7 separate regions of the Homo sapiens genome follow, and all the other regions are linked to region 2. Evidence: fine-mapped expression QTL. A gene starts in region 2. Each other region holds a variant in brackets. All regions are shown on one strand. Distances are from middle to middle.

Region 1 (4,063 bases), 23 kb before region 2:
CAGCCCACTGGCAGGACGGGCGGGGGGCTGGGAAGCCTTGTGGCCCACGACGTGACTCAGCCTGAGATGCCTGCCGGTGACTGCAGAACACTGCCTGCCAGATTAAATTAGGCGCCTCAACATTAAAAATATATATTTATTTTAACTGGTTGGGGTGTTTGGAAGGAGATGAAAGGGAGGGGAGATGAAGAATTACAAATGAGATAATTAAGGAAGCAGAGAGGAGCGCGTGCCGAAATGGGAGTGAGGAGGTGAATTGTGAATTCCCCGCGCTGCACCAATTTAGAGGGTAGAAAAAGGAGTTAGAAGCAAAGAGGAAAAAATAAATAAACAGGCAACAAAAACCCAACCCAGCCAGCCTGAGCCATTTGCATTAGTGTTCATTTAGGAAATTAGCAGACGGGAAACGCTGGGGAGTGGAGTGGGCCCCGGCCTTGGGGACTGCAGAGCCCGCTCAGCCCTGGGTGGCTGGGCCCACATGGGCTGTGCCCCAGGAGCACAGGAGGACCCAGAGGGTGGCCGAGGGAGCCTCGCCGGGCTCCGGTATGGGTCCTGGCCCCTCACAGGTGCGAGCCTGGCCCAGTGACTGTGGACGCTGTGGGAGAGCAGGCCTCCGATACGCAGGGCTGGGACTGCTGACCTGGAAGGTGGTGCCGGGCGTGTCTGGTGAAGGCGCCGTTGGCAGCTAGAGAGAGACGGCGGATGGGGTGACGCCATTACCCACGGTCCCAGTTTTGAGGCTTGACGGTGACGGAAAAGGACGTCGGTGCTGGCCACGGCTGCTGTGGAGGTGGTGCTGAAGCTGATGGGGGTGGCACGAGGTTTGTCAGGAGGACAGTGAAGACGCTGTGCCGATGGAGTGTGCCCAGAAAGACGGCGAGGGGGCCGTCAGGAGGGGCAGCCCTGGTGCTGGTGTTGGCAGGTGACGAGAATCACAGAGGTGCCGTGGAGAAAGGGAGCGAGGATCTTCCCCGAGGCAGGGCGGGCTCCAATCCCAGCTCCAACCCTGAAAAGCCCTGGGCCAGTCCCCACAGTCAAGCCCTGGGCCAGTCCCCACAGTCACGGTCACGCGCGTACAGCCAGAATATCCCACGTGGGAAGAACCGAGGGCCTGGGGGTGGGAGGGAAAGCAGGCTCCGTGCTGAGGCAGGCTGGCAGTGACGCAGGTGGAGGTGGCTGAGAGAGGACAGACGACGCAGGTAATGACGGAGGAGGCGTCCCTCCACAGGGCCAGGCTCGCCATGGGCCTGGGCAGAAGGCACTGTTGGATCCAGCCGCTAACATGGGTAGGTCCACAGCTCAGAGCCCAGATCCTTGGCCAGGATCTGTGGGGGCCCAGGGCATGCCACCAAGGCTATGATGAGGATGTACTCGTACACACACAGACTCTGTGTGTGTAAGGAACGCAATCTCAGCACACGCCCACGTGCACGCCCTCCAGTGCCACATCCCAGCCTGCACTCCCTGCAGTGTCTGGAGTGTGTCAGGCAGGCGATGTGGGTCACGAACGGGCTTGTGTAACTCATTGTAACTCATCCCCCCGGGCTGACCTCCGTAGTACCAGAGGTCGCTGGTGACTTGCTGGCCCCAGATTTAGAGGGTGTGAAGAACAGCAGCTCCCCAAATCCTGAAGAGGTGGAGAAGGTTGTTTTCCCAAAAATAAAAGGAATAAAAGACACAGGCTGTCTCCTGCCCCATCCCTGTCCCTGGCCTGGAGGAATGGAGGCCACATGGGCGGAGGCCGGTGAGCCGTGCTTGGAACTTGCTGATCTGAGACATTCCACACCTTCCCTCCCTTCAGCCACCACGTGCCCCCAAGCATGGTACCTCACCAGCACCAACGGCAGCGAGGGTCTGCACCAGGTTGGTTGGCACAGACATTGGGATTGTGGGACAAAGGAAATCTGGGAGAGGAGGGGGCTTGGCTCTCTGAGACTCCCGTGAAACTGAGGTCCCGCTGGGCCCCAGGGAGGAGCCCCCTGCTCTCTCCCAGAGCAGAGATCTGGAGCTTGCCAACCACCTCCCCAGCACTCCCCTGGGCTTCAGCCACACCAGCCCCTCTACCCGCCTACCCACCAACCCCAGCTCTGAAGCCTGACCACCTGAGGATGTGCAAATCTCCCTGCCTACTGAAGTCTTTAGTCTTTGGTTGGGAATCCAGGTAGGGGTGAAAAGGGGAGGCCCATCCTGCAGAGGGGGAAGGGTGTGGTGCTGGGTTGGCCTGGGGACTGGTTCAAGTCCTGCACAGCCTGAGGCATGGGGGACCCAGAGCTGGATTCCTGACCTCTGCCCCCAGCCATAGCTAAACCCAAGGCTGGCGGGGGCCTGGCAAGCTCTGCTACGGATGGCCGAGGAGGGCATGGCCCTCTCTTGTGG[T/C]GTCAGCTGGTCTCCCTCAGGTCTGGCTGGACCCTGGCTCACCCCACGCCCCTTGCACTTCTGCCTCCACTAAATCTGTATGGAGAGTAGGGCATATTGGCGTGTGCCTGTATGCACACCCTCATGTGTATATGTGTGCACCACGTGTATACATGGGTGGGTACATGCATGTGCACACATGTTCAAGTGTACACGTGCAGCTTTGCGCATGCTCCTCGTGTGTGTAGGAGCATACAACATGCAGACACTCTGCGTACATGTGTGCACCCACTTGTATATACAGAATGCATATGCAAGTGCACACGTGTGTGTGCGTGGACATGATATGAGCATAAGGGCACGTGCACATGTACACCACACGCACATGGTGTACACATGGGTGTACAGGGCATGTGAATACACACATGGGGTGCAGGCATGTGCACCGGCATGTAAACACAGAGGTGCACACAGAGCCCATGTGTATATGCAAGTGCACATGTTTGTGTATCCTGTGTGCATGTGGTCAGAGGAAGGCAGCCCTGGGAAAGCTGGGAGGTGCGGTAACTAAATCTGAAGGGTACAGAGAGGCCATGCCATGCTTTCCACAGTTCCAGGGAAGGTGTGAGGTGCTCCCTGAGAATTTTAAATTGGGCCAAATGGAGCCTGGCAAAGGGCCCTGGGGTTGGGACCCAGGGGCTGCCAGGTTATCAGTCCAGGGGGTACCAGCTCTCCTCCTGGTCTGAGGACCTGTCCCCCATGCCCTCACCCACAGTATGGAGCACCCTTCCCTCCTTTCTCCCAGTGGGGCTCCTCCTCTAGGAAGTCTGCCTGGGTTCCCCAGGCTCACAGGCCAGCTGAAACACATGACTCTCCCACTGTATGTGTTGGGAAGTTTTCAGTGGCCTGTAACAGAAAACCCATAACAGAAAACCCAACTCAAGCTGGCTGAAACCACATGCAAGCAGATGGTGGATGGTGGATTAGCCTAAGCAAATGGAAAACCTGATGCTGTTGCGGGTTTTGGATGAAGCGTGATGGGGCCGCAGCTCTGCTCCTCTGACTCTCCATACTTTGCTTCTTTCCGACGTGTTGACTTGGCCTTCACGATGGCTCACTCCACGGAGCAGGATGACGTCAGCGTCTCTGGCCCTCAACTGCATCCCACACTGTTCCTCCTCATCTCTGTCTTATACCTCATGGTCCAAGGTGACTGCTGGAGCTCCAGCTGTCACACTCACCTTCTGTCCATCAGGAAGGAGCAGAGGAGAAGAGCGGCCTACACTGCTCTTTAAGGGTACTTCCTGGAGGTTGCACACATCACTTCCTATGCATCCCATCGGTCAGAAATTAGTCAGGCTGTGAAGTGAAGTCTTTATTCTGGCAACTACTCACCCAGCTTAAGACCCAGGATTCTATTCCCCAGGGGCCACTGGCAGCTCATGCTACAGATGCCACCTCCTAGGAATGTTTGGACTATTAGAGGCCAGATCACCCAGCACAGGGCCCACCCTTGGTGGTCAGCGTTTCCCATGGCTGCCTCCTGGGGGCCGTGGACTCTGAGATGACCCATACACTGTCCTACTCACAGTCAACCCACCGTCTGGTCGGGGGAGACAAACCTCGGACCCAGGGCAGGGGGTGGCCGCAGAGATGGAGAAATGCAGAGGGAGCTGTGGGATCCCTTCTTCAGATACTCCGGGCAGGA
Region 2 (4,063 bases):
GGGAAACTCACGACAAAGCCATAGGTTGACACTGACCTGGAAATTCAGCTTAAACCCTGAGAAGTCCATGCTACTATTCAGAGAGGGAGCATTTCTGAGGTTGGCTTTAGTGGGTGCTGCCTCAACGTTCCTTCCGAAGGCCTTGGAACCACCCCCTAACCTTGTTGCCCACATTCCCTCTGGGACCTGGAATGGTAGATCCAATTTGGGGGGTGCCAGCTGAGGACCAGGCAACCCCCACCCCCTTAGGTAACAGAACTCAGCGTCCTGGGGCCAATCCCACTTATTCACCCTGTTGGTCTCACTGGTTGGCCAAGGGGTGGGACCAGAGTTCTTCCCAGGGAGTCCTGCTTCTCTGGAGGAAGGAGGGAGCCCAGAGCTGCCCGAGGTCATGTGATGACCTCTTCCAGGGAGGGGCAGAGATGAGGGAAGGGAGGGGAGCCCCGGCCCTAGGCCCAGGCAGCTATTGGCTATTTCCCTCATCCCTTCCTGAGGACCCCTTAGCATCCTCCTCCCCCTCCCCATCGGCTCAGCCTGAGGGAGTGGGCTCCTGGCTCTTCCACGGAGAGGTTTACCTTCCCTGACTTGCTGTGGGGCACTCAGGCGGGCTCATCCCAGATTTCGGAGGAGCCAACAGGTACGGAGCCCCTCCTCTGGTGGTTCCTACCCACGCTAGACCATTCCCCCTGCAGTGTCCAGGCACAGAAACAGCCCCATATACGCCTTGTATGGTCAAGAAAGCGGCTCCTGGAGGTGGTCTGCCCTGGGAGGAAAGGGCTTCACTTTCCCCTCCTTTGCACACCTGAACACGGAGCTGTCAGAGGAGGCTGAGTGAGGTGGCGGCCAGACAGACAGCGCCAGCCACGGAAGGGGAGGTGGGCACCGTGCCAGGCACCCGGCATCCTCAGTCCAGACTGACAGCTCTCAGACAGGCATTGGTCCTGGCGAACCTTCCCCTTCAAGTGGAAGCTGGGGGGTCAGCAGTCATGGGCATCCTCCCTGGTTAGGAGCCGGCTTCCCTGCACTCTAGCTGTCCTAGCCGAAGAGTGAAGCCCTGTCCAAATCATGGCGAGGCTGCAAGACAGGCACACACTACTGCCTCCTGGGAGCCCAGGGGAGACTGAAATACACCAAGGCAAGGAGCGTGGGTGGGCCCAGGACAGGCCGGCCTGAGCACCAGCCCAGGAATGCTGGTGGGCATGTGCCCCTCTTCCCTCCCACCCATGTGTGCACACATTTGTGCCATATACTACCGTTCCCATGTTTGCGCCTGGGCACACACTTGTGCCAGCATACACACACTTGTGCACTTGCACCTGGTGTCCAGGAACACTCCCTCAGCTCACAGACGTGCGCTGTGTGCACACAGTACCACGCAGTGTCCACGAGCACACTTTTGTGTTCGTGTTCACAGAACCCGTGTGCGCACACATGCACAGTCCTGGGCTGCAGAGAACCCCAGCCAGCGGGGCGGTGGGGGAAGGGGAGGGCACGCCTCCTTCCCAGGAGCTCAGCAAGGCTGTCCGCGGGAGCCCAGGGCTGCCCGCAGGGCTTTGGCGTAGGCCTCGCAAGCACAGCAAGCATCACAGAGTGAGGGCGGCGGGAGAACCTCCGCTTGCCGGAGAAGGTGCAGCGGACTCATCACTCTTGCTCTCCTGCCTTGGGTGTGACTCTTGGTTCACCTCTGGGGAAACAGGCTGAAAGGTGACCCTGGCGGCCCAAGGACACACACCCATTGTCCGCAGGTTCCTCCCAGGTGTCTTCTCCAGCAGGTCACCGGGAGAGCGAGGGGCTGGAGTCTTTCGGGAGCTCAGTGCCCGCAGGCAGAGCAGGGAAAGGGAGGCGCCCCAGGCCCCTGCGGAAGGAGGTCCCAGGAGGGTCTCCGCAAGGGGCTCCCTACTCTGCACTTCAGCTCCTCCAGGGAGGGGCTGCGACCTCGGGCAAAGGTCCCTCAGATGTCTTGAGACTCAGTTTCCTCGTTGGTGACACTGGGAGTCCGGAGTCCCCGCGGGGCCTGCCAGCCCCCGGCCGAGCACGGCCCCACGCGGAGCCCGTGCAGCCTGACTTGGGGCCCAACGCCCGTCCCCGCAGCGCGAGACGCGCAGGTGCCCGGCCCTGCCCTGGCCGAGACCCGCCGCCTGCGCAGCCCCGCAGAAGCTCCAGCTTTGGCCCGTGTGAGGTCCGGGCTCGGCCTGGGCTGGGCGGAGCCCGCTCCCGAAGCGCCTCAGCGCCGGGCCGCCGCCCTCCACGTGACCTCCACCTTCGCCGTCATCCCCATATGCAAAACGGGGAAACGGGGAAACGGAGGCCCACCACCAGGCAAGTGAGGACAGCCGACTCGCGCGCGCACCCGCAGAGGCCTCTTGGCCCAGCCGACCGCCGTCCGCGCCGCTTCCGGCTCCGCGCCGGGGCCTCTGGGGCGGGTAGTCCCCGCGCGCGTCCGGGACCGGCGGCCATTGGCTGGTGCGGGAGGGGGCGCGCACGCCGGCGGCGGGAGGGGCCGTCACGTGATGTTTGGGTGCCCGCCCCGCCCGCCTCGCCCGCCGTGAGCGCCCGGAGCGGTCCGCGAGCCACCGAGGCCCAGGTGAGGCGGCGGCGGTGGGGCTGGGGCCTGGCCGGGGCCGGGCGTGGGGCGGCGAGGGCGAGGCGGCCGGGGACCAGCGCGGGGCCCGGAGCCCGGCGGGGGCCGCGGCGTGGCGTGGTATGGGGCTTGCGGGAGGCCGGGCGGGGGGCGGGGCCGCGCCGGTGGGGAGGGGAGGGGGCGGGACCGTGCCGGGGGTGGACCCCAGGGGCGCCAGGGACCCTGAGCCGCAGCCCCGCGAGAGCGCCGCATTTCGGGGACCGGCCCGCGGGCACATGAGCCCCTCGGCGGGTCCTCGCGCGCTGTTCAGACCCCAGGTCGGTGGGCTCTGGGCCGGGCAGCCGGTGCCTGCGCCTGGAGGTCAGTGCCGTCCCGGGGAGCGCCCCAGCGCCTACTTGCTGGGTGCAAGGGTTGGTGCCCTGCAGCTCAACGAGCGGAGCCCGCCTTCGAGCCTGAGCTGGGGACCCCGTTCCTGTGTGCTTGCCTCTCCATGCCTTTCTGTCCCTTCTCCAAGTTGTAAGAAGGTGCTTCCTGGGTACTGGGGCCTGCGACATCCCCACCAGGGACTTTCAGGTGATGTTGATCTGTGCTGCCCCCGCAGAAACTCTCCAGGGACCTCGTGTTTGTTGCCTCATGGCGCACTCCTCCTGCTCTGGAAGCTCTGCCATGTCCAGTGTGGTAGCCCCTAGGCATGTGTGGCTGTTTACATTGTCCTTAACGTGAAGGATTCAGGTCCTCCGTGCCAGTGGTCACATGTCCGACACTCAGTAGCCACACGTGTCTGGTGGCGGCTGTGTGGGGCAGCGCGGGTAGGGAACACTGCTTATCACAGGAAGTTCTGTGAGCGGTGTGGTGCGGCTCAAAATGGGCCTCGCGCGTGCTGCTCCGCCGGTGCTTCTCCGCCCCTCATCCTGCCAGGTGCCTTTCCAGCCACACCTGGCGCCCTTTCTTTCCTCTGCTGCACACTTGCCTCTTCTTTTAGTTCCTGGCTCGCTCCTGGCTTGGGGGCAGCTCCGCTTCCGGTATGTCTGAGCTCACCTTTCTGACCGCTCTCCCTACAGTATTTCTTGTTTGTCATTGTCACTCATCTGCTTGTTTTCTGTTTTATCTTTAGTGCCTGTGAGACAGGGGTGGGGATTGTTGCTTAGGATACTCCCAGTGTGGACACAGTATTGAGTTGAAAGAAAGCTGAAGTTTGTTAGTACTGGAGTGCTTCCCCCGACTGAACCGCTGCTTTCATACCGTTCGACCCCATACATCACAGGACCGCAGCAGAAATCTGGTAGAACAAATGTTTGGACACAGCAGCACAGGCCGTGAATGCAGGTGGCTGTGGGAGGCTGGCAAATCCAAGACGACTTCCTGGAGGAGGTTGAGTTTTGGCTGGGTCACCTCTGTTTCTCTCCTCCTCTGCTGGCCTGGCCCCATGAACATCTGGCAGCCTCTGGCTGCTCTGACTCTATCCAGGAACCTTCCCTGGAC
Region 3 (4,063 bases), 120 kb after region 2:
GAGAAGAGGGGCTGCACCGCAAGCCAGGGCACCTCCCAGCCAGCACCGTGGGCCCTCAGCTCTGCGTTCCTCTGGAAAAGGAAGTGAAGCAGCAGGGGTGCCCGGGTGCCTAGAGTCAGGTCCTACCTTAGCGCCAGGCTGTATGTGGGGGCAGGAAGTGGGAGGCCCACAGTCTTGTCCCTTGCCTCTGAGTCCCCAGGAGAAGCCCTACCCTTTTGCTGCTGGAGGCCACCCATCAAGGACCTGACAGGCGAGAGGTCAGGATGAAGGGGCTGAGCTTGGAGCCAGGGAGGCTGGAGGCTCCGTTCAGGAAACCTCACCTGGGGCAAGGGAGGGGCCTTCCCAGATGGGACAGAGGTCACAGTGCCCAGTGACCCCGCCCAGGCCCACCGACTCCCCAGCGCCCCCACCCGCCTTGGTTGCTCACCCACCCTGGGCCACAGCCCTTCCTCTATGGGGTTGCCCTTGGCTTCCCTAGAGAGGTCCTCACCATGAGGTCTAAAAGCTCTGGGTCCCCTTAACCCTGACCCTAACCCTGGGGTGACTGTGTCCAGTTCTGACTCCATGCGCTGTGGCCTCCTCTGCTTGTGGAGAGCCAGAGTCTCTCATGTCCTCTTCCCACTGTAGTCACACAGCAGCCCTGGCCTGCCTGTGCGGCCCCCAACCATGGTGGGGCTCCAGGTTTGCAGGGGGCTTTTGAGGGGATGCTGACCTTGCCCCCCTCCCACAGGGACCCCATCCCTGCTGTGTTTTGGTGTCTTTCCCGCTCCCACTGGAGGGCTCTGACCCATTCATCCCGCCCTGTCTATACCTGCTGCTGCCAGGAGCCCTGGCTCCCAGGCCAGTGGGGCAGAGGCTCCTGGCTCTGGCTGGGTGTCTCTTTTCCTCAGTTGAGGAAGAGCCAGGCTGCCCCTGGTGCCCACGGGCCTTTGGTTAAAGCGCTCAGCTGCCCACCAGCACTCTCAGGCTCCACCCCACCCACTCATTCTCCCTCCATGCCCTGACTGAGCTGTGGCCTCACCTTGGGGCCTGTGCCGAGAACAGCCTCCTGGTCCCTCCTGCTCTGACAACTGGCAGTGTGTCCGGAGACCCTCAGGCAGCTGGCGTCCTCTTCCCGGGTACTGTGCTGTGTCCCCAGGAGAAGAGTGACTGCGGCTCAAGCACCCTGCTGCTCCCTGGGGCGGGGCTGGGCCAGGCCGGCCCCTCAATCCCCTCGGAGCCTGGGCTTCAAGCTGCTCTGTGGCCCCCTCCAGCTGCTCTGTGGCCCCATACAGGGCCTGCTGGGCTGCCCCATCACTCCCTTACCACCTCCTCTCCCCAGGACCCCTCCTATCGCTCTGTCCTCCCCCCTTCTCCCCACTGTCAGCTTCCAGAGGTGGCTGTAGCCATTTCTGCCCCTGGCCACCTGTCGCGGGCTGGGATGTGCTGAGTCTGTGGAGCGCTTTGTCCACTTCAGGTGCCCACCCAGTCCCAGTGACAGATTGATCAGTCCCAGTGAAGGACTGATCACGAGGGGCACTCATGCCAGCAGTTCAGGGAAGGGAGCAGTCGTGGGGAGGGGGACAAACCAGGGCTGACCCACCACACGTGGTCAGGGCTCCGGGGAGGGCAGAGGGCACCTGCCGGGTGGACAGGCGGGAGGCCCAGAGAGTAGCTGAGACAGAAGGGCCCCTGTATAGTGGATGTAGGCTGCCTATGCTGGGTGCCGATGCGAGGCCTGGCCGCTGTGCACAGATGCAGGGCCTGTGATGACCTGTGACCCCGAACCTGGCTGCTCTCCCCAGGGTCTCTGCCCCCTGCTCAGCCTCTGGTGCCTTTCCAGGGTCCAGCAGCAGCAAAGCCATCTGCCAGCAGAGCTGCAGCCCCGAGCCGGCCGCGGCAGCCCTGCTGCTGGGTGCCGGGCCGGGCTCCACACCCCTGCGGCCGGGCCCCCACTCCCGCACCAAGACACGCAAGCCCAACTTCAGCCCCCAGGAGACGGAGGTGCTGGTGCAGAGGGTGCGGCGCCACTACCCGCTGCTGTTCGGGGCGCTGCGGGGCACACCTGCC[C/T]GAAAGCACCGCGTGTGGAGCCGCATCCTGCAGGCAGTGAACGCGCTGGGCTACTGCCGCCGCGACCTGGGGGACCTCAAGCACAAGTGGCGGGACCTGCGAGGTGCTGTGCGCAAGAAGCTGGCGGAGGGCGGCCCCGCCCCCGGCCTCCTCCTCACACCTGTGGAGCGCATGGTGGCAGAGACCTTTTCTGCCCACGGTCCCCAAGGCGAGGGCCAGACCACGGAGCCCCTGCCAAGTAAGTGGGCCTTCCCCACAGCCCGCCCCCCCGGACCACACTGCCCTGGGGCAAGCAGGGCCGGCGAGTGGGCTTGAGCCTTCTGCACCAGCTCCCAAGAGGGAGACCCTCCGAGGGAGACCCAGAGGCCCATGGAGATGGCCCGCCACCCTCCTGGCCCATCTCTTCTTTTAGGTGGGGAAACCAAGGGTCGGGGCCAGGGAGGGTTCTGCCTGTCTCGGTAGTGGAAGGGCTGCGGTTCCAGCTCAGGGTCCTCCCTGCATTGCCAAGCATTGTGCCATCAAGGGGCTCGACCATATACGCCACCTCAAGCCGTGCCCACCGGGTGTCCAGATGGGATGCTGGGTCCTAGTCACTGTAGAGAGGTGAGCGCTACCGTGGGGAGGCGGTCACAAGGTGGCCTCTGGGACCAGTGCCTGGTGAGGGGCAGAGACAAGGCCTGAGCTCCCCGACGTGCAGCAGCAGCGGGTGCAGCCCAGGGTGCCCTGGTGCCCTCCAAGGCCCCCATCTTGGCCTCTGCCGTTCCCGCCTGGTGTCGTGTGGCCGGAGGCCTGTTTGGCCCCGGGTCCCGGCCTGGCCTTCCTCTCCACGGGCAGCCCTCCCCTTCCAGATGCAGTCCAGCGGTGAGCACGGCTGTCCTTAGGCAGCCAGGTCTTCCAAACCAGTGGGTCCCAGCAGGGAGAAGTCCCTACTTTCCCATGCAGGGCAGCAGGGCCCAGCTGGCCCCAGGGTCTGAAGACAGGGGTGTCTGGGAAGAAGGAGGGCTTCCCTCCGCTCTCCCCCAGCCCCAGAGCCCCAGCGTACAGCTACCATGAGAAGGCAAGGCCAGCCAGCAGGTGGGAGGAGCCTCAGCCCATATGCACCTCCAGCCAGCTGGCCCTTGACATAGCTCCCAGGGAGCAGCAGGTGACCTGTCCATTCATTGGTCACGTTGAGGAGTTTGGGCAGAGCCAGGGAGGAGCCTGGGCCCCAGCTTGACTCTTCCCCGCCCCACGCTGTGCCTCACTCTGGCCTGCAGTGGCCTCCCCCTCCTTCTGCAGGCCCCTCCCTCTGGGCCCACTTGGAAGCCCCACACGTGGTGCTGTCCGGTGACTCTCAGCCTGTCAGGCACGCTGTGCCCCCTTCCGAGCCCACGGGCCCACTCCAGGGACCACCGGAAGCCAGGCGTTTCTGTCTGGTCAGGCCTCGTCTGCAGCCCGCAGCTGCCACTGGCTCCAAGGGTGACGCTGGCTCTGAGGGTGATGCTGGCTCCGTGCTTCCTCCTGCCGCCTCCGTGCCTCCTCCCACCGCACCTCCTCTCCTCCTCAAGACACCGTGCCAGGAGCTCCTTCGCCGTCCTCCGCATATGGTGGCACACCCTTCGAAGCAGAGCCCCGCTGGACCCTCCCCTTCCTGGGAGCTGCTGGAAGGACTTTGGGAACGAAGCCCCGGAAGCAGGACCAGCTCCTTGAGGGCCACAGAGTGGACAGAAGGACCCAGCCTCACAGGACAGGCAGGGGCTGGCCTCAAACGCCCCCAGTGGCAGCCATGGCAGAACTTGGAGCGCTGGGGCATCCTCAGCTGCTCCTGCTCACAGCGGTGCATGAGGCTGGGACCCATGGGCAGAGTGGGCCGGACTGGTTGGGAGACGCATGTAGACCCAGCCAACCCTGTGGCTGGGCTTGGACAAGGGGCCTGGGCTGTGGGCCTTGGGCGATGGGCCTGGGCACTAGGCCTTGTGGTGGGGCTTGGGGGATGGGCCTGGTCAGTGGGCCTCCTGATGGGGTGGGGCTGGAG
Region 4 (4,063 bases), 47 kb after region 2:
GGGGGGTTTGGGTTGGTACAGCTCAGTACCCCATGGCCCCTTGTGGTCTCCCAGCGATGGGGGGGTTGCACCCACTGGATTCCAGGTGTCCCCAGGGGCCCAGAGTGGCTTGCTGGGCGGGGCCGTGAATAGGCAGAAGACATGTGCTGCCATTTCGTGTTTCCAGACTGGCCTCCTCTGCCTGCGGTGACTCGGTGGCCCTGACCGTGGGTTAGCCTTTGTCCCTGAGCTGGCTGAGCAAACACAGAGGTGTTTCATGTTTCCATATGCAGCGAAATGAAATTGTGAGTTTGGTCAGGTGGTCTCTTTGGTGGCGGTGGAGCAGCTCACAAATCTTCACTCCCCTCCATGTGCCTGGCCGGAGCAGAGGGGAGTTGGGCAGCCTTCCAGTCCCCCCAGGGGCCCCAGCTCTGATTCAGCTCAGCTCTTTCAGACTTGAATCCCTTCCCTCCTCCCATGAGCGTTCCTACCTCTCATGAGCCCTCCTCAAGCTTCCTGTGCTCCTCCTTGTCCTGAAACCTAGCAGACCCTGCCGCCCTTTGCAGTGATGGCCGCTGGCTGCTCCCCTTGTCCTGAAACCCAGCAGACCCCGCCGCCCTTTGCAGTGATGGCCGCTGGCTGCTCCCCTTGTCCTGAAACCCAGCAGACCCCGCCGCCCTTTGCAGTGATGGCCGCTGGCTGTTCCCCTTGTCCTGAAACCCAGCAGACCCTGCCGCCCTTTGCAGTGATGGCCGCTGGCTGTTCCCCTTGTCCTGAAACCCAGCAGACCCCGCCGCCCTTTGCAGTGATGGCCGCTGGCTGCTCCCCTTGTCCTGAAACCCAGCAGACCCCGCCGCCCTTTGCAGTGATGGCCGCTGGCTGCTCCCCTTGTCCTGAAACCCAGCAGACCCCGCCGCCCTTTGCAGTGATGGCCGCTGGCCGCCCCCTCCTCTCATGGAGCCTCCGCCGTGGCTTTCGTGGCCTCTGGTTAACATCCCCCTGACTCGTCCCCATCTCCTGTGTTGTCTGTGGGGCCCTCTCCTCTCTCCGTGGTGGCTTCTCTCCCTGGGAGTTCTCTTCCTTAACAACTGTCCCTACACAGTGGACTCGCGTTCTGCATGTAGCCCCACCTCCAGGGCTTTGGGTATCTGCCTGCCTGTGCCAGCCCCTCTGGGCTCATCCCTGCACACGGCTCCCCTCACTTTCTGGCACGAGGAAGTCAAAGCACTGTCCGTGTGCCTTCTGGGCCAGAACTTAGGACTTGTCCTTGACTCTCCCTGGGTTCCGTGCCAATCCCTAGCTCCACCCTCCTCCCTCCCGGGCCCTGGTTCCTGCCGCCACCTGCTCACTGCCCTGCCAGCCCCTCACGTGCCCCCAGCAGCTTGCTCCCAATCCTGAAGTAGAGGGAGCTCCCCAAACACAAGTCTTGTGTCAGGCCTGGCTGGCCCCACCAGCGCCCCACCATCATTTGAGGTGATGGCAAGTAGTGCCCTGTGCTCAGAGCCCCCTTGAGCCGCTTCCTTGGGACTGCTGGACCCTCCCCACCTGGGGTTTGAGTGCCCCTCCCCGAGTTCTCTGAAAGCCTGTGCAGCAGCCCTCACCCAAGACGGCTTGTGCTCTTGAGGTCTCACGGGGCGTGAGGGGCCCCTAACCAGCTCGAGTGAGCTCTGGCTGGGA[T/A]CAGTGTGAATGCTGTTCCTGACGATTCTCTTCCCCTGGCCCTCCTGTCCTTCTTTCTGGAACTCTCCTTCCTCGGATGGAGAAGTGCCTGTGCAGGGCTGGTGGTTTCCTCTGACTCTGCGGTGTCTTCGTGCTCTGGTTTCTGGAGGCCCCCGCTCTGCCTGCCCCTTCTCTGGAGCTCTTTGCTGCTGCTCCCAATGTTGGCTTCTCGGTGCTCCTCTGTGTTCTCTGAAAGTCCCTTTCTTGGCGTCCCCCCTTCCTGTCCTGGGGCTGTTAACACAGCCTTTGTTATCTGAGCTCGTTCCTTTGAGGGCAGTACAGAGAACTCAGGTGTTGGAACCAGACTGCCCGAGCCTGAAACCTTCTCCACCACTTAGCAGCTGGGGGACCTTGGGCAAGTTACCTCACCTCTCCATGCCTCAGTTTCCTCAGCTGCAAGGTAAAGATGCTTGTGGCCCCAGCTTAGAGGGTTGTGAGGATGAATCTGCGCGTGTAGTAAAGCGCCTCTGTGATTGTCGTCACGCGCCAAGTGTTAAGGAAGTGCTAGCTGCTATGCTGTTACGTGTTAAAGTTTTCTCTCTGGATAGTGTCTGTTTCCTCCACGCTGTGTTTCCCCCATGTGTCTTGGGCTGTCTTCCACATCTGAGCTTTTCCCGATGAGGCCCCGGCACATGTGCAGAGCTCTCTGCTCGCTGCGTTGAGACCTGCCTCTCACTCGGGGCTCCTGGAATCCCACCCGCTCTCAGAGCCCACTCTCCCCTGGGGCAGCAGACATCTCCTGCCTCCTACTGAGACCTAACTTCCTGCCCACCTCCCCATTCCAGGCAGCGTGCAGAGAGGGGAGGGAGGCCATGGCGACTGGGCAGGTACCTGGGATGCGAGGCCTGAGACCTGTGGAGAGAGGGGCTGAGGACCACTCTCCCTGCTGCCTCTCTGCGTGGGGCCGGGTGTTTTCGTGCGCCCTGGGCAGAACAAGGCCTGCGCCAGCAGCAGGTGTGAGTCCAGCTGTCCTGCTGGGCCTGCCCGGAGGGTGCCACGACTGTAGGACGGCACCGCTGTCTCTGAGGGGTTTTGTTTTGGAAAATGCAGTGGTTTTTAATAAAGATGTTATCTGTGTTCACAGTAAGAGCTTTGTTATTTAAAATGAGTTACTACTATTTCAGAAGCCTCCGTTTGAGTTTCTAATGCAGTGGATGTTAGTAGGTGCGATCCGCAGCAACCAGAGCTGTTTGGGTCCCGATTGTTCTGAGCAGGGCAGTGGGGCCCACTGGGTCGATGGTGTCCTGGTGCTGCCCTGCTCTGGGCAGGGCTGGATGGCACAGGCGGGTGTCTTGCTCAGAGGGAACGTGGGGTCACACCGCCTTCCCCGGCCCTAGGGACTTGGGTCTGTACTCAGCTGGCGTGAGGCTCACTTTGCTCTGAAACCTGCCTTCGCACTTCAGGTGTTTGTGTGGGCGGGTGGAGCCCTTGCCCTGAGGTGTTTAGAACTTAAGGTGTGGCCTGGCCAGCAGGTTCCGTAGTGATAGCATTAGGGTGTAGGCCAGTCAGAAGCTGCCCGCACAGGGACCCCTGCACACAGGGAGGACGCTCTGGCAGTGTCTGGGCAGGAGAGCTCCCGTTATCCTCTGGTCATTTGCTCTGAGTCCCTGGAGCTGCAGCCCACGGGAGGAGAGGTTTGGGCGGGATGCCCAGCTCCCCATTCCAGGGACGGCCGGTGCCCCAAGGGTGGCGCCACTCCCATGAGTTATGTGTTGAGTGCTTACTGTTTGCCAACCATAATGTGTGTCTGATTGCATCTCACAACAGCCCTAAGACGCAGGTCCTCTTCTTCCCCTTACTTCACAGATGAGGAAACTGAGGCCCAGAGAGGCCCCATGGCTCTTGCCAGCTGCACAGGTTTCATTCAGCCAGGGCAGAGCCAACCCCGGGCCTGACCCAGCCCCACTACCGTGGAGTGCGGCTCAAGACGATGGAGCTAGAGATGCCGGCAGGCTGCATGGGTGCCGGGTTCTCAGCCCGGCCTGGGCCTGACTCACATGCAGTGGATGCTGCCCTGCCTGCATGGCGGGGGCCCAGCGCTCCCAGAAGCCACCTGGGAGGCTGGCGGTGGGGGTTGGTCTTTAAGAGCCGGCCAGAGGGCTCACCTTGCTGGGGGTCCCTCTTGGGAGGGGAGGGGGCACACCTTCCTCAGGCTGTGTTTCTGTGTTCCTGCAGGGACCAGTGGACCAAGAGGCCACCTTGAAGGGGCTCTGTGGGGGGGTTGCTGTTTGGGGGCTGGTGAGAAGCCTGGAGTAGCCTAGGGAATGGGTACAATGGAGCCAGGGTCTTGGGGCTGGGGAGGGGCCGGCGGCCCCTGTGCACCCTGAATTGGAGCTTTAATCCCCATGTCTTCCCCCTCTTCCCCCTG
Region 5 (4,063 bases), 89 kb after region 2:
GCTGGAAGACTGCATGCCCCCACGCAAGAAAACGCACAGTGTATGGTTCTGTTTGTGTGAAACATCCAGAAAATGCAATCTGTGGAGACCAGAAGTCGATGAGCAGTTGTCAGGGTTGGGAGCAGGGCTTGGTTTTGGGGTGCCTGCAGGCAAGGCGCAGGGCCCTTTCTGGGGTGATGGGCATGTTCTAAAACTGGGTTGTGGGGATGGCTGTACAACTAAGAGTTACTGAACTCTACACTTAAAGCGGGTAGATTTTATCAGATCTAAATTAGACAGTAATAAAACTTGTACTTAAAAAAGTAGAGTCAGTTCAAAAGTTAGTTACACTAAAAAACTGTAACAGAGGCAGCAGTCCCCTGTCCAGTGATGGGGTGGCCAGAGTCTCCCTAAAGGCAGATGACAGGAACACTGGGAGCTTTGTGCTGAGCGGCCTGGAGCCTTTCCATGCATGGGTCACTCCTCATAGCCATGGCTGCCCTGCGGGGACCACTCTGTGGGGACCAGGTGCTGCCCTGGCCTGTGCCCTCGGGCAGTGATGTCAGCAGCGTCATGACCAGCATCGACGCCTGTGTCTGACCTCTTCCTCTGTAGCTTTGTTCTCCATTCTCTGACTCAGGTGTGCCTGAGTCACTTATTCATTTACTCCTTCATCCAAGAATACACGCTGGGTCCCTCTTACGGGAGGCGCTGCGCTTACGTGAGGTGCTGAGCAAGGCCCCACATGGTGGAGGGTTGCGATTCTGAGAGGCGTTTCTGTGGGGTGAGAGCAGAGTTGGGTGGTCCGTGCAGGCAGTTTCCTCGTGAAGCGAATGGCTCCTTCACGCGGCTTGGTGGGTGCACGGTCAGTGCCTACCACGTCTTTGACTCTGTGGGCCGTGGACGCTTTGATGAGATGTAGTGCCTTCGATTGTGGGAAGAGGTCAAGGCTGTGGTAGGCTGCTCCCAGTGCCCCTCGGCTGTCAGAGGTTTACCCCAGACCAGCCCGCCTTAGCCTTGGCTCTCTCCAATCCTCCGATAGCCATGGGGTGGGTGCTGGGAGGAAGCTGTGGGCTCCTTGGTGCTGCTGCTGGTGGGTGGTGTCCACGGTGAGCCAGAGCAATGAGGCGGGCCCCAGGGCTGCGTGTCCAGCCCCACCCCGGCTCCGTGCGTGTCCAGCCCCACCCCGGCTCCGTGCTTCTCCAGCTCCAGCTCTGAAGCAGGTGCCTGGTGGGCACTGAGGTGTGGTGGCGAACATCCCAGCAGGAAGGAACTGGGGTTGGTGGACCCTGGAGGCCACGGGGAGCCCAGATACAGGCGAGATGCTGGGGAGGGGGATGGTTCTGGCAGTGGCCCCACCACCTATGTGACCACAGACAAGTCACTCGGGACTCAGGGCCACGACGTCCTGCGCTGTGGAAGAGGAGTCACAGTGCTGCTCGCGGAGGTGGTGTGGGGCCGGGTTTATGTGCCTTGGGTAGCTCCTGGCTCCGGCAGGTGGTGTTGACCCCTGCACCGGATTTTGTGGTGATGGTGTCCCTGGGGACCCTGGGTGTGCCTGTGGAGACGACGGTGACACGGAGGGGAAGTAGTTGATGGCGAGCCCCATTCTGAGTGTGGGAAGGTGGGACATCGGTACGGGAGGAGGTGTGGGTGGTGGGGGCTGCTGGGGCAGGGCCAAGCCTCCCATGCCGTGCCAGCTGTACCTTCTCTGCAGCAGGAGCGTCTGCAGCAGGAGCGTCCTCAGCTGGACCGGCTGAAAACCCAGCTCTCAGATGCCATTCAGTGCTATGGAGTGGTGCAGAAGGTGAGGTGCTGGTGGGGGCAGTGGGGGTCTGCAGGCCAGGTGGGGTCGGCCTCGGTTCCCGGAGCACTGTCATGGCTGTCTTGTCCCTGTGGGCCTGGTGCAGCCCCATCCCCAAAGGCAGAGAAGAGGGTTGTTCTTGCAGACAGTCTCTAGGCAGCCAGGATCCAGACTGTGCCTCAGGGCATGTGTCCTAGAGGACATTTACCTTCAAGAGCTGACCCACAGTAGCTCTGGGGAAGCAGGAAGAACAAGTCTCACCCTGCTCTGACAGGTGAGGAAACTGGGGCCCAGAGAGCTCCCACGCGTGGACAGAGGCCATCCAGCGACTC[G/A]CTGGCAGAGCTCAGCCCCGGCCCTGGCAGCCTCTTCTGGGAGTGGCATGGACAGAGGCCATCCAGCGAGTCGCTGGCAGAGCTCAGCCCCGGCCCCGGCAGCCTCTTCTGGGAGTGGCAGGCGTGTTTTGCTGCACCGTCGTCCAGAGCCCTGCACTCAGCTGACCATTTCTTCTCCCTTCCCCACCCTTTTTGCTCTTCCTGTCTTTCTTCTCTTGTCCTTTTTTCAACAGAAAATTGCAGAAAAGTCCAGAGCGCTGCTTCCCATGGCGCAGAGGGGCAGTAAACAGGTGGGTGCCGAGTACTGACCATGGTCAGTGGCTGTTAGGGGACAGCCCAGAATCCGCTGCCATCTGTGCTCCATGGAAGGGCGGGGAGGGCCAAGGGCAGGGGTGTCATCTGAGGGGCGCCCTGAGGCACAGCCTTGAAAACGTGGGCATTTTGACCTTTGGGCCCTGGCACAGTGCCTGACAAGGGCTCAGCTCCCAAAGAATGACTGCGGACGGTGCCATGTGCTGGGCAGGACTCACAGGTCAGACCAGCTCTCCTGCTGAGAGCCACTGTGAAACCTGGGTGAAAACACACACACACACGTGGCCGGGCGCGGTGGCTCACGCCTGGAGTCCCAGCACTGTGGGAGGCCGAGGTGGGCGGATCACCTGAGGTCAGGGGTTCAAGATCAGCCTGGCCAACATGGAGACAACCCATCTCTACTAAAAATACAAAAATTAGCTAGGCGTGGTGGCGAGCACCTGTCATCCCAGCTACATGGGAGGCTGAGGCAGGAGAATTGCTTGAATCCAGGAGGCAGGGCCGAGGTTCCAGTGAGCCGAGATCACGCCACTGCATTCCAGCCTGGGCGACAGAGTGAGATTCTGTCTCAAAAACAAAAACAAAAACAAAAAACACAGGCACATGCATACAGAAAAATGCACACATAGATGCACACAGACATGCAGACACACAGATAAACACAGATGCACAGAGATAAACACACAGAGACACAGACACACAGAGACTTGCAGAGACAGAGCTAGAGACACACAGATACACAGAGACATACAGATAAACACACATAGAGACACATGCAGATAAACACAGATGCGCAGACACATGCAGGTAAACAGACATGCAGACCCATGCAGATAAACACAGACATGTAGACACATGCAGATAAACACACAGAGACACAGATAAACACAGACATGCAGACACATGCAGATAAACAGACATGTAGACAACATGCAGATAAACACACAGACACATAAACACAGACACGCAGACACATAGACATGCAGACACATACAGATAAAGAGACATGTAGAGACACACAGATAAACACACAGAGACACAGACATGCAGACACAGATAAACACAGACACATGCAGATAAACAGACATGCAGACCAATGCAGATAAACACAGACATCTAGACACATGCAGATAAACACAGACACGCAGACACGTGCAGATAAACACAGACATGTAGACATGCAGATAAACACACAGAGACACAGATAGACATGCAGACACACATGCAGATAAATGCAGACACACGGATAAACAGTCACGCAGACATGAAGAGATGCAGATAAACACAGACACACAGACACATGCAGATAAACACAGACATGTAGACACATGCAGATAGACACCCAGAGACACACAGATAGATGCAGACATGCAGACACACATGGATCCAACATGGGGGAAACATCGGAGCAGCTGGGAGCCAAGCCTAGAGAGGCACGCATTCCCAGATCACTCAGGCTCATCATCACTGCCTTCTCACCCCCAGGACATTTGCCAGCTTGTGTCTCAGCTTATTGAGACTGAACAGCAGTGGTGGCTTATAGCTTTAGTGGTCTTACTGGGCTGGAGAGGCAAAAATTAGAGTTCAGGACCCTTAGGAATAAAACCCTAGAGCACAAGGGGATTGCAGCACTCGG
Region 6 (4,063 bases), 98 kb after region 2:
AGGCACCTCACAGAAGAGGATTCCGGTTGGCTCATAAGCCTGTGATTGTGTACTTGGCAACACGAGTTATCAGAAAAATGGCAAAGAAACCCATGATGGTAAATCACCACACACCACACCCACACAAATAACTAGAGCAAACATGAGTGAAAACCTCTGCAAAAGCCGGGCGTGGGCTGCGTGCAGGCGGTTGCACTCTCATGCCTTTACTGGTGGGGTGTGCCTTTGCATCACCACTTTGGAACACTGTTCGAGAATATCAAGTTCAGCATTTTCTGACCTAGGATCTTGCAGTTCTGCCCAACAGACATGCATATTCAGTTGGCCCTTCGTATCCATGAGTTTCACATCCATGGATTCCACCACTCAGACTGAAAATATTTTTAAAAGATGGCAGCTGTTCTGAACATGGACAGCCTCTTCTTTTCTTGTCATCATTTCCAAAACAATACGGCAGAACAACTATGCTATTTACTACATAGCATTTACATCATATTAAATATTATAGGCAACCTAGAGGTGATTTAAATATATGGGAGGATGTGCGTAGGTTGTATGAAAATACCAAGTCATTTTATATCAGGGACTTGCGCACCCACAGATTCTGGTATCTGTGGAAGTCCTCGGCCACTCCCCCGTGGAGACAGGACAACTGTGTGTTGACAGAAGTCACATGGGAGAATGCTCATAGCAGCCCCCACGCAGTGACACAACCTGGAACACCGCCCAGTCTGACCAGCACAGAAAAGCAGCACCTGCTGAATTCATGCCACGGGGGACTCCACAGCAGCCAAAAGAGTGAGCTGTGGCCACCACGCCCACTGGTGATGTCTCGGACATAACGCTGAGTCCAAGCTGAATTCATGCCACTGGGGACTCTACAGCAGCCAAAAGAGTGAGCTGTGGCTACTGTATGATCAGTGGCCCCACCAGTGATGCCTCGGACATAACGCTGAGTCCAAGAAGCCTGAGACCCAAGGGGATAGACTGTGGGATTCCATTTCTGTAGTATTCAGAACCAGGCCCCACTGGTGGACAGTGTTAGAAGTTGGAACTGGGTTCTCCTCTGTTGGGGGCCTGGGATGACAGGTGCTGGAGGGAGGCCCCGGGGGTCCTGACCAGTGTCCTGTGTCTTGGCTGGGATGTGTTTCCTTTGTGAGCAGTCATAGAGCTATATCCTTTGCACCTGGCATTGAAACACAGATGTATTGCCTTTCGGTAGAATTTTCTTTTAAAAAGGTGGGGAGTGGCCAGTAGTGCTTCTGAGAAATCATGGAAGGTTAGATTATTTCTAGGAATTTGCAAACTATAAATGATGAGATGATATGCAACCCTGTTCAACAAAAGGACTGTTGCCAAGTTGATGCTAGGCTGATGTGGGGGGACTGGGGGGCTGCTACTCACAGGCCGGGCAGCCCTGGCAGGTGCGAGGGGCACTTGCTGCCTTCCCCGTCTCTTGCCTGTCTCCCCTGGGTGTGGGGTGAGCAGCTCAGCCTGTGTGGAGTTGGCGATCCTGGCTGTGGTCCGTAGTTTTCAGCTGGGTCGAGGGTCAGTCTCAGACCCAGCTTGGGCTCAGCCAGTGAGCAGCATCCCAGTCCCTGGGGCAGCATCAGGGCAATGGCCCCAGTGGCAGGTCATGCTCTGTCTCTGCCGTCACTGGCCACCTCAGCCTACATTTCCACCAGGACTTCGTGTGTCCCCAGCCGGGCTGCAGAAGTGAAGACCTGCTTCACTCTCACGGGCTGGCTGGAAATTGCCTAGACACGCCTCCATGTTTGAGGCACAGGGCTGGAGGTCGCCCCTTGTCTCTGGGTCCATTTCCCTTTGATTTAACGTGGGGCTGGGGGAAGCATTGCCACAGCCGTGTCCGTCCTGATGTTCTGGGCTTTGCCTCCAGAGACTCCACCAGTGAATAAATAGAGTCTGTTGCTGCTTGGAGGAAACAGTGAGCTATCTGGGGCTCCTGAAAAGACACCACCACTCCCTGTGTGAGCGCCTCTTGCCCTGGCCCCTGCCCTCCCTCGGGTCGGAGTGCATGAGAAAGTGGTCTCCTTCCCAGAGCCTTGGAGAGCCCTGAGCGCCGGCCTCGGGTCCCTGCTTTCTGAATGCCTGGCAGAGCGGAGTCTCTTCCCACGGGAAACCGTGTGTGCCCTGTCTCCAGCACTCACGTTAGAGCATGTCTCTTCCCTACGTGTCGGAACAGGGACCCAGGCCCTGAGCCCTGTGGGGAGGAGAAAGCCGCCTTTGTCTGTCTGCCTCTTGAGCTGGAAAACTATCACAGGGCCGTCCCCTCTGCGCTTGCCCCAGCACCTTGCCAGCAAATCCCTAATCCCAGCCT[C/T]GGAGCTCAAGACCCAAATTGGGCCTTTGTGGGGAGAATAAAGGAGCGCTTTGTGAGCCTTTCAGGAGGAGGCCGCGGAGGGACCCGGGCGTCTAAGCCATCTCTTCCTCCCCTGGCTTTTGTCCTGCACTGCTGGGGAGAGCGGCACCAGGCCCCCGATCCTCCCGCTGTGGAGGTGAGGGAGACCGAGCACCTGCGGGGTCTCCTCTGGCCCGCACCCCAGCCCTGCCGCCTTCCTGGGTGTCCACACGGCTCGCATCCCAGTGTGACTGCCTTCCTGGGTGTCCACACAGCCCGCACCCCAGCCTGGCCGCTTTCCTGGGCGTCCACACGGAACCCCGTTTGCACCCCCCTCCCACCCCTGCGCCCTCCCCTATCCTCCTGAGCTTCCCCTTCTCCACATGCAGGAGGTGGCATCAATCCCAAGGCACAGATCCGAGGCAGGTCTCCATGGGTGCCTGGCACCCTCTGCCCACAGCTCCTGGGGAGCTGTCACTGAAACCCCCAAGTCCAGGGAACATCGCACAGAACGTCCTGTGGTGCCTTCTCCACCTGGCCATCTCACTCGCCCGCATTAGCTGCCCTGGAGGATTTCATCGTGGGAGGGAGCACATTTCCTCCAGCCCCCTCGCCTGTGGCTGTTTGCTGTCAGGGCCGAGGGCAGGCTCCTACATCTCCGTCCTCGGGCACACCAGCCGGGCTGCCCCGGGGACCTCTTACCTCAAAAGTTTGTTATGTTTACCTGGGGGCTTTGACTTTACCCAGGCCACGGGACCCCAGTCAGTGGGGCTGTTGTAGGGCCTGTCACCGCTGGCAGGAGGAGGCTGTGCTCAACCGTCATGCCGCTCTCCAGGGGCGTGTATGGCCATGTCCCCCCTGGGAGGAACGTCTCTACCCCGTAGCTCACAGCGTTGGGAAAAGCACAGCTCAACCTGGTTTCCCACCTGAGTCCGGAAGGTGGCATCTCATGGCATCTCTGCTGTATGCTGCAGCCTTGCATGCCTCAGCTCGAGCTCTCCAGGCGACACTAGGACGTGCTGAGGTCAGCTCCATCCCCTGGAAGTGAAAGCTGGAGGCTCAGGGAAGCTGAGGACCCTCCCCAGGCCCACACAGGAAGTGAAGGGCAGTGTTCCTGAGCCCTCACACCTTAGGAGAGCCTCGTGCTCGGGTTCCTGGTGGAGTGAGGTGCACAGCTGCTGTGCTCTGCAGACATGAGGGGTCAGACCGTGTGGGTGGAGCTTGAGGGGCATAGACCACGGGGCTGTGAGTGCCGCTGCTCCCATTCTACAGATGAGGACAGTGAGGCCCAGAGAAGGGCGTGGCATGCCTGGGGCCTCACAGCCGGCACCACTGCTGGGCCGGAACCTGAGCCCAGGCTCTTTCTGCAAGAGCCCCGGAAGCCTAGGGGCTGGAGCCGTAGGAAGGAGGCGTTGGGGTTGCTGGGCTTGGCGCGAGGCCAGCGCCTCCCTGGGCTCCCACCGCCAGGCACTGCTCACTTCCTCCCGCCCACTCCAGGAAGGGGAGGTGATAATTACCACCTTGGACGAGTTGCGCTTGTCAACAGATTTTTTAGATCTTTTATTTTATATTCATCTATCCACATATTTATTTATTTAAAGGCTTCTGCTAGCTTCTACCCGTGTCAGGGTGGTGTGTAGGAAGAAGCTGGCTTGGGAAGGAGAACCTGGCTAGGGCAGCCTCACCATCCCACCTGCAGGACCTGGG
Region 7 (4,063 bases), 130 kb after region 2:
AGCTGGTGACCAAGGGTTCAAGGATCCCTGTGAGGCCTGGGTGGGGGCTTCTGAAGGCAGGGCTCATGGGTTCCACCTCCTGCCCAGGGGGCTTGCAGAGATGGGGCCACAGTTCCCTGATGAGAGTAGGGAGTCCTTGCTGGGACGGTGGGGAGTGGCCTTGTCTTTCTGAGGACCCTCCTCCCTCAGAGCCAGTCGTGCCAGGCTGTGCCTGGCAGCAGTCCCTGTGGTTGTAATGGCCTCTCTATCCCAGGCCTTAAGACCCCTGAGGCTCAAGTCAGCTCAGGTCTGTGCCCTGGTAGGCACTGCAGGTGCACAGTTTGTTTAGATACTCCTGCCTCCCAAGCTCTTCTCCAGTTGCCTGATTGGAGGCAGGCCTTGCAAGGAACCTCCCTCCGGGAAGAAGGCTTGCCCGTGCTCGTGTTTGCTCGTGTTTGCATGTGGCTCTGTTGAGGACCCCGGCTGTGCCTGCGCTCCTGGTGCCCAGGTGGCATGTGTCCTTCCTTTGGGTGGAAGACAATGCTGAGCATGGAATCTTCCGGATCCCTGGGGCTGCCCCGGCCCTGGTCTGGTGTCTCCCGTGGGCCCTGCTGATGTGGCTTCCCTGGGTGGCACTGCTGCAGCCACCGAGCCCGGCTTTTCCCAGGTACCATCTCCCGTGATCCCCGCACGGCAGCACAACTTTCTGATCAGCTCCCTGTGCTTGAGTCGAGGGCCAGTGCGTGTGGCAAACCAGAGCCCTGTGCTTGCAGACCCGGTCTCCATCAGCCGCGTCGCAACTCCACAGACGTTAAGGCAGGGGCTTTGCCCCTTCAGAGGGGGCCGTGGCCACAGAGTGGAGGGGCTGGCCCAGGCAAGGTCATGACAGAGCAGGACTTGACCCCAGCCCTCACCTCCGCCTGCCACTCCCACCCTTTCCTGAGTGGACTCTTCCTGCCCCACCTGGTGTGGGCACTGAGGAGTCCCCTTCCCTGGGCCACCTCCAGGCCTCCGTTCTAATGTCATTGCTGCCCACTGCCCACACCACGCGGAGCCCTCGGCACGTCTGGCAGCCCAGCGCCCATCCCTGCAGCCTCTGCTCCTCTGCAGGCCCTGGGCTCAGGCTCCCTGGGCTTGCCTTTGGGGGGTGTCCTCAGGGCGGGGGCGGCTGGGCCTCCATCTGTAATTGCCTTCTGTTGTCTTGATTTGCAGATAGTATTGAAGCCAGCCTTGAGGCTGCGTCCTCGCATGCGGAGGCAGCCCGCCAGCTCCTGGCTGGAGCCAGCCGGCACCAAGTAAGTCCGTGTGAGGGCCACAGTGCCCGGCCGGCCCGGCCTCCGTCCCCTATCCTCCAACCCTCCCTCCGTCTGTCTGGAGGGGCCCAGGCCCTGCCCTGTGCCTGGGAGGGGCATGCCCACAGGCCTCCTCTGAACCAGTCTGCTGCCCGTGCCCTAGGGCTCTGGGAGTGGCGGGGTTGCGGCAGCAGTGGTCTGCGTGGTGCCCACAGCGGTCGGCACCGTCTCCTCTCTTGTATGCACCACGCCGCCCTCTCCCATGGATCCGGGGTGCAGCCGAGGGGAGGGCCCTTGGGGCCTTCCCGCTCCACCTCCTGTGCCAGATGCTGACATGCAGCTCAGTGTCCATACTGGGGCGGGGAACTGCAGAGGGGACTTTGTGGTTGGGGCAGGTCAGTGGCTCAGAGGGAACAAGAAAGCTCAGGCCTTTATTTTCTTGAAGTGGGACTTGGAGCTACCTTGAGGACTAGCCACTCACTGGGCCTTGTTGCTGACTTGTGGTCACCACAAGAAGACCTGACAGGTCAGGCTGGCTGGAGACTGTGGCCCAGCTGAGATGGAGGCCCAGCCGCTGTCTTCCCCTCACTGGCTCTGTCCCCATTGTGGCCTGGTGCTCCCCACTGGCCCTGACGGGCAGAGATGACCAGAGCCTGTTCCTCAAGGAGTCCCAGGGGCCAGGCAGGCTGGACATTAAGTCCAGCAAGGTGAGGGTGGCATGGGCCACGGTGGGAGCGCAGAAGAAGCCCCTGGGCCAGCTGGGGCCAGGAGAGCACACACTCTTGAGGGCGGAGCAGGGGCAGTATTGGCAGACGAGATGGTGCAGTGGGTGTGAGGCCAGGGTCCAGGAGCAGCCAGACGAGCCCAGGACATCACAGGCAGGTGTGACGAGAGAGGAGCCACATCCCCAGGACGCTGGGATATCACAGCTGTGCCCGCAGAGGGTCCTCAGTTGCCTCAGGGGTGCAAGAGGAAAAGGGGGCCGCAGCTGGAACCACGCAGGGGCCTGACTGGGTGGAGAATGAGGGAAAGGCCAGGGCTGCCTTGAGCTTCCCCAGTGGGACCCAGCCCGGGCACCCCCACTGTGGGAGTGTGTGGTAACGGGGAGGCTGATCCCAGTTTGGGCCTCCCCATTTCTGTCGGGGGCCATGAGACTCAGAAGGTTCAGGTCACCAAGGGTC[A/G]GTCCCTGTTGACAGCTGGTGAACGCCAGGCCGGGAGACAAGACCTGGGAGAGGCTGTGCCAAGGTCACCTGCAGGATGAGGTCAGAGGCAAGGCTGGGGCTGGGTCTCCTGGCGCCAGCTCTGGGCTGTTTGGCCTCAGCCCTTGGCCCAGCACCTCTAGTCGCTGAGGGCAGCTAGGCCCAGGGGCCTCCAGGAGGCAGAAGGTGATGGGCAGAAGGTGACGCCTGGTGACGGGCAAGGTGGACTCGCTGGAAACTCAGGGCCACACCACGCAGAAGGCCTTGTTTCAAGAGGAAAGCCAGCCAGCAAGATGACCCCTCCTGAGCACCCTGGGATCACCTGGTCAGAAGCAGCGCTGATGCCTGGGACGGCAGGAGGACGATGGGACAGTGAGGAAGAGGAGGAGGTGAAGGAGGAGGAGGAAAGGAGGGCAGTGGCAACTGGGCCAGCCACCTGTGCCATGGACGCCGTGCCGCATTCCCAGTGAGCCTGTGGGCTCAGTCCTGGCAGAGCAGGCACCGCCCCCCCGACACACTGCAGAGGAGGTGGGCAAGGCTCAGGCCCAGGAGGCGGCCGTGAAGTCACCTCTGCATAGACTGTCCCACTCCTGTTCCCGAGGGGGTCCACCAGGGAGTATCAGGGAGGGATGAGGCATCTGTGAAGTTGCCTCTGCATAGAATGTCCTGCTCCCACCTGCCTGCGAGGGGCCTTCCCCACGGTGTCAGGAGGGTTGAGGCATCTGTGAAGTTGCCTCTGCATAGAATGTCCTGTTCCCGCCTGCGAGGGGCCCTCCCCACGGTGTGTCAGGAGGGACCAGGTGTCTGTGAAGTCGCCTCTGCGTAGAATGTCCTGCTCCTACCTGCAAGGGGCCCTCCCCACGGTGTGTCAGGAGGGATGAGGCCTCTGTGAAGTCGCCTCTGCATAGAATGTCCTGCTCCCGCTTGCGAGGGGCCTCTAGATGGGCGGGTGGATGGATGGAAGGAGGAAGGTGTAGATGGGTGGGTGGATGGAAGGAGGAAGGTGTAGACGGGTGGGTGGATGGAAGGAAGGTGTAGACAGGTGGGTAGATGGAAGGAGGAAGCTGTAGACGGGTGGTGGATGGATGGAAGAAGGAAGGTGTAGACGGGCAGTTGGATGGGTGGATGGAAGGAGGAAGGTGTAGACAGGCGGGTGGATAGGTGGATGGAAGGAGGAAGGTGTAGATGGGCGGGTGGATGGATGGAAGGAGGAAGGTGTAGACGGGTGGGTGGATGGAAAGAGGAAGGTGTAGACGGGCGGGTGGATGGGTAGATGGAGGAAGGTGTAGATGGGCGGGTGGCTAGGTGGAAGGAGGAAGGTGTAGACGGGCAGGTGGATGGGTAGATGGAAGGAGGAAGGAGTAGATGGGTGAGTGGCTGGGTGGATGGACAGACAGCATGGATAAATGGGTGAGTAGACGGATGGATGGATGAATAGAAGGAAGAGGAGGTTGGAAGGGGTTGGCTGGACAGTGATGAACAGACAGGTGGACAGATGAGTGGATGTGGTGGGCGTGTCTATGTGGAGGAATAGACACTTGGGTAGCAGGATGGCGGGTAGACCAGAGGGCAGGCGGACGAGCGGATGGAGCA

What was found. PIP is the estimated chance that this variant, and not a neighbour inherited with it, causes the effect.
Region 1: its variant is fine-mapped to the expression of TSNARE1 in whole blood (INTERVAL, PIP 0.98).
Region 3: its variant is fine-mapped to the expression of TSNARE1 in whole blood (INTERVAL, PIP above 0.99).
Region 4: its variant is fine-mapped to the expression of TSNARE1 in whole blood (TOPMed, PIP above 0.99).
Region 5: its variant is fine-mapped to the expression of TSNARE1 in thyroid (GTEx, PIP 0.95). The same link has a PIP of 0.9 or more in whole blood.
Region 6: its variant is fine-mapped to the expression of TSNARE1 in whole blood (TOPMed, PIP 0.93).
Region 7: its variant is fine-mapped to the expression of TSNARE1 in whole blood (TOPMed, PIP above 0.99).

What each region holds. Positions count from the first base shown.
Region 1 is chr8:142,424,727-142,428,789 of GRCh38, reverse strand. No RefSeq gene overlaps it. Among named protein-coding and RNA genes, the nearest start is that of ADGRB1, 23 kb to the left of the region's middle. RefSeq lists an enhancer at 851-1,625. The variant T/C (reference allele first, on the strand shown) is at 2,377.
Region 2 is chr8:142,401,625-142,405,687 of GRCh38, reverse strand. TSNARE1 (t-SNARE domain containing 1) reads left to right here and starts at 2,506. Exons shown (of 14, transcript NM_145003.5): 1 at 2,506-2,584. RefSeq lists silencers at 1,608-1,657, 2,098-2,667, 2,808-2,947 and an enhancer at 1,601-2,376.
Region 3 is chr8:142,278,084-142,282,146 of GRCh38, reverse strand. The region is part of intron 11 of TSNARE1 (t-SNARE domain containing 1); the gene reads left to right. Among named protein-coding and RNA genes, the nearest start is that of LINC00051, 82 kb to the right of the region's middle. The variant C/T (reference allele first, on the strand shown) is at 2,050.
Region 4 is chr8:142,354,783-142,358,845 of GRCh38, reverse strand. All of the region lies in intron 1 of TSNARE1 (t-SNARE domain containing 1), which reads left to right. Among named protein-coding and RNA genes, the nearest start is that of TSNARE1, 46 kb to the left of the region's middle. RefSeq lists an enhancer at 2,801-3,568. The variant T/A (reference allele first, on the strand shown) is at 1,657.
Region 5 is chr8:142,312,726-142,316,788 of GRCh38, reverse strand. It overlaps TSNARE1 (t-SNARE domain containing 1), which reads left to right. Exons shown (of 14, transcript NM_145003.5): 8 at 1,697-1,786; 9 at 2,349-2,405. Among named protein-coding and RNA genes, the nearest start is that of TSNARE1, 88 kb to the left of the region's middle. The variant G/A (reference allele first, on the strand shown) is at 2,116.
Region 6 is chr8:142,303,984-142,308,046 of GRCh38, reverse strand. All of the region lies in intron 9 of TSNARE1 (t-SNARE domain containing 1), which reads left to right. Among named protein-coding and RNA genes, the nearest start is that of TSNARE1, 97 kb to the left of the region's middle. RefSeq lists an enhancer at 3,506-3,595. The variant C/T (reference allele first, on the strand shown) is at 2,339.
Region 7 is chr8:142,271,992-142,276,054 of GRCh38, reverse strand. TSNARE1 (t-SNARE domain containing 1) reads left to right here. Exons shown (of 14, transcript NM_145003.5): 12 at 1,192-1,274. Among named protein-coding and RNA genes, the nearest start is that of LINC00051, 76 kb to the right of the region's middle. The variant A/G (reference allele first, on the strand shown) is at 2,453.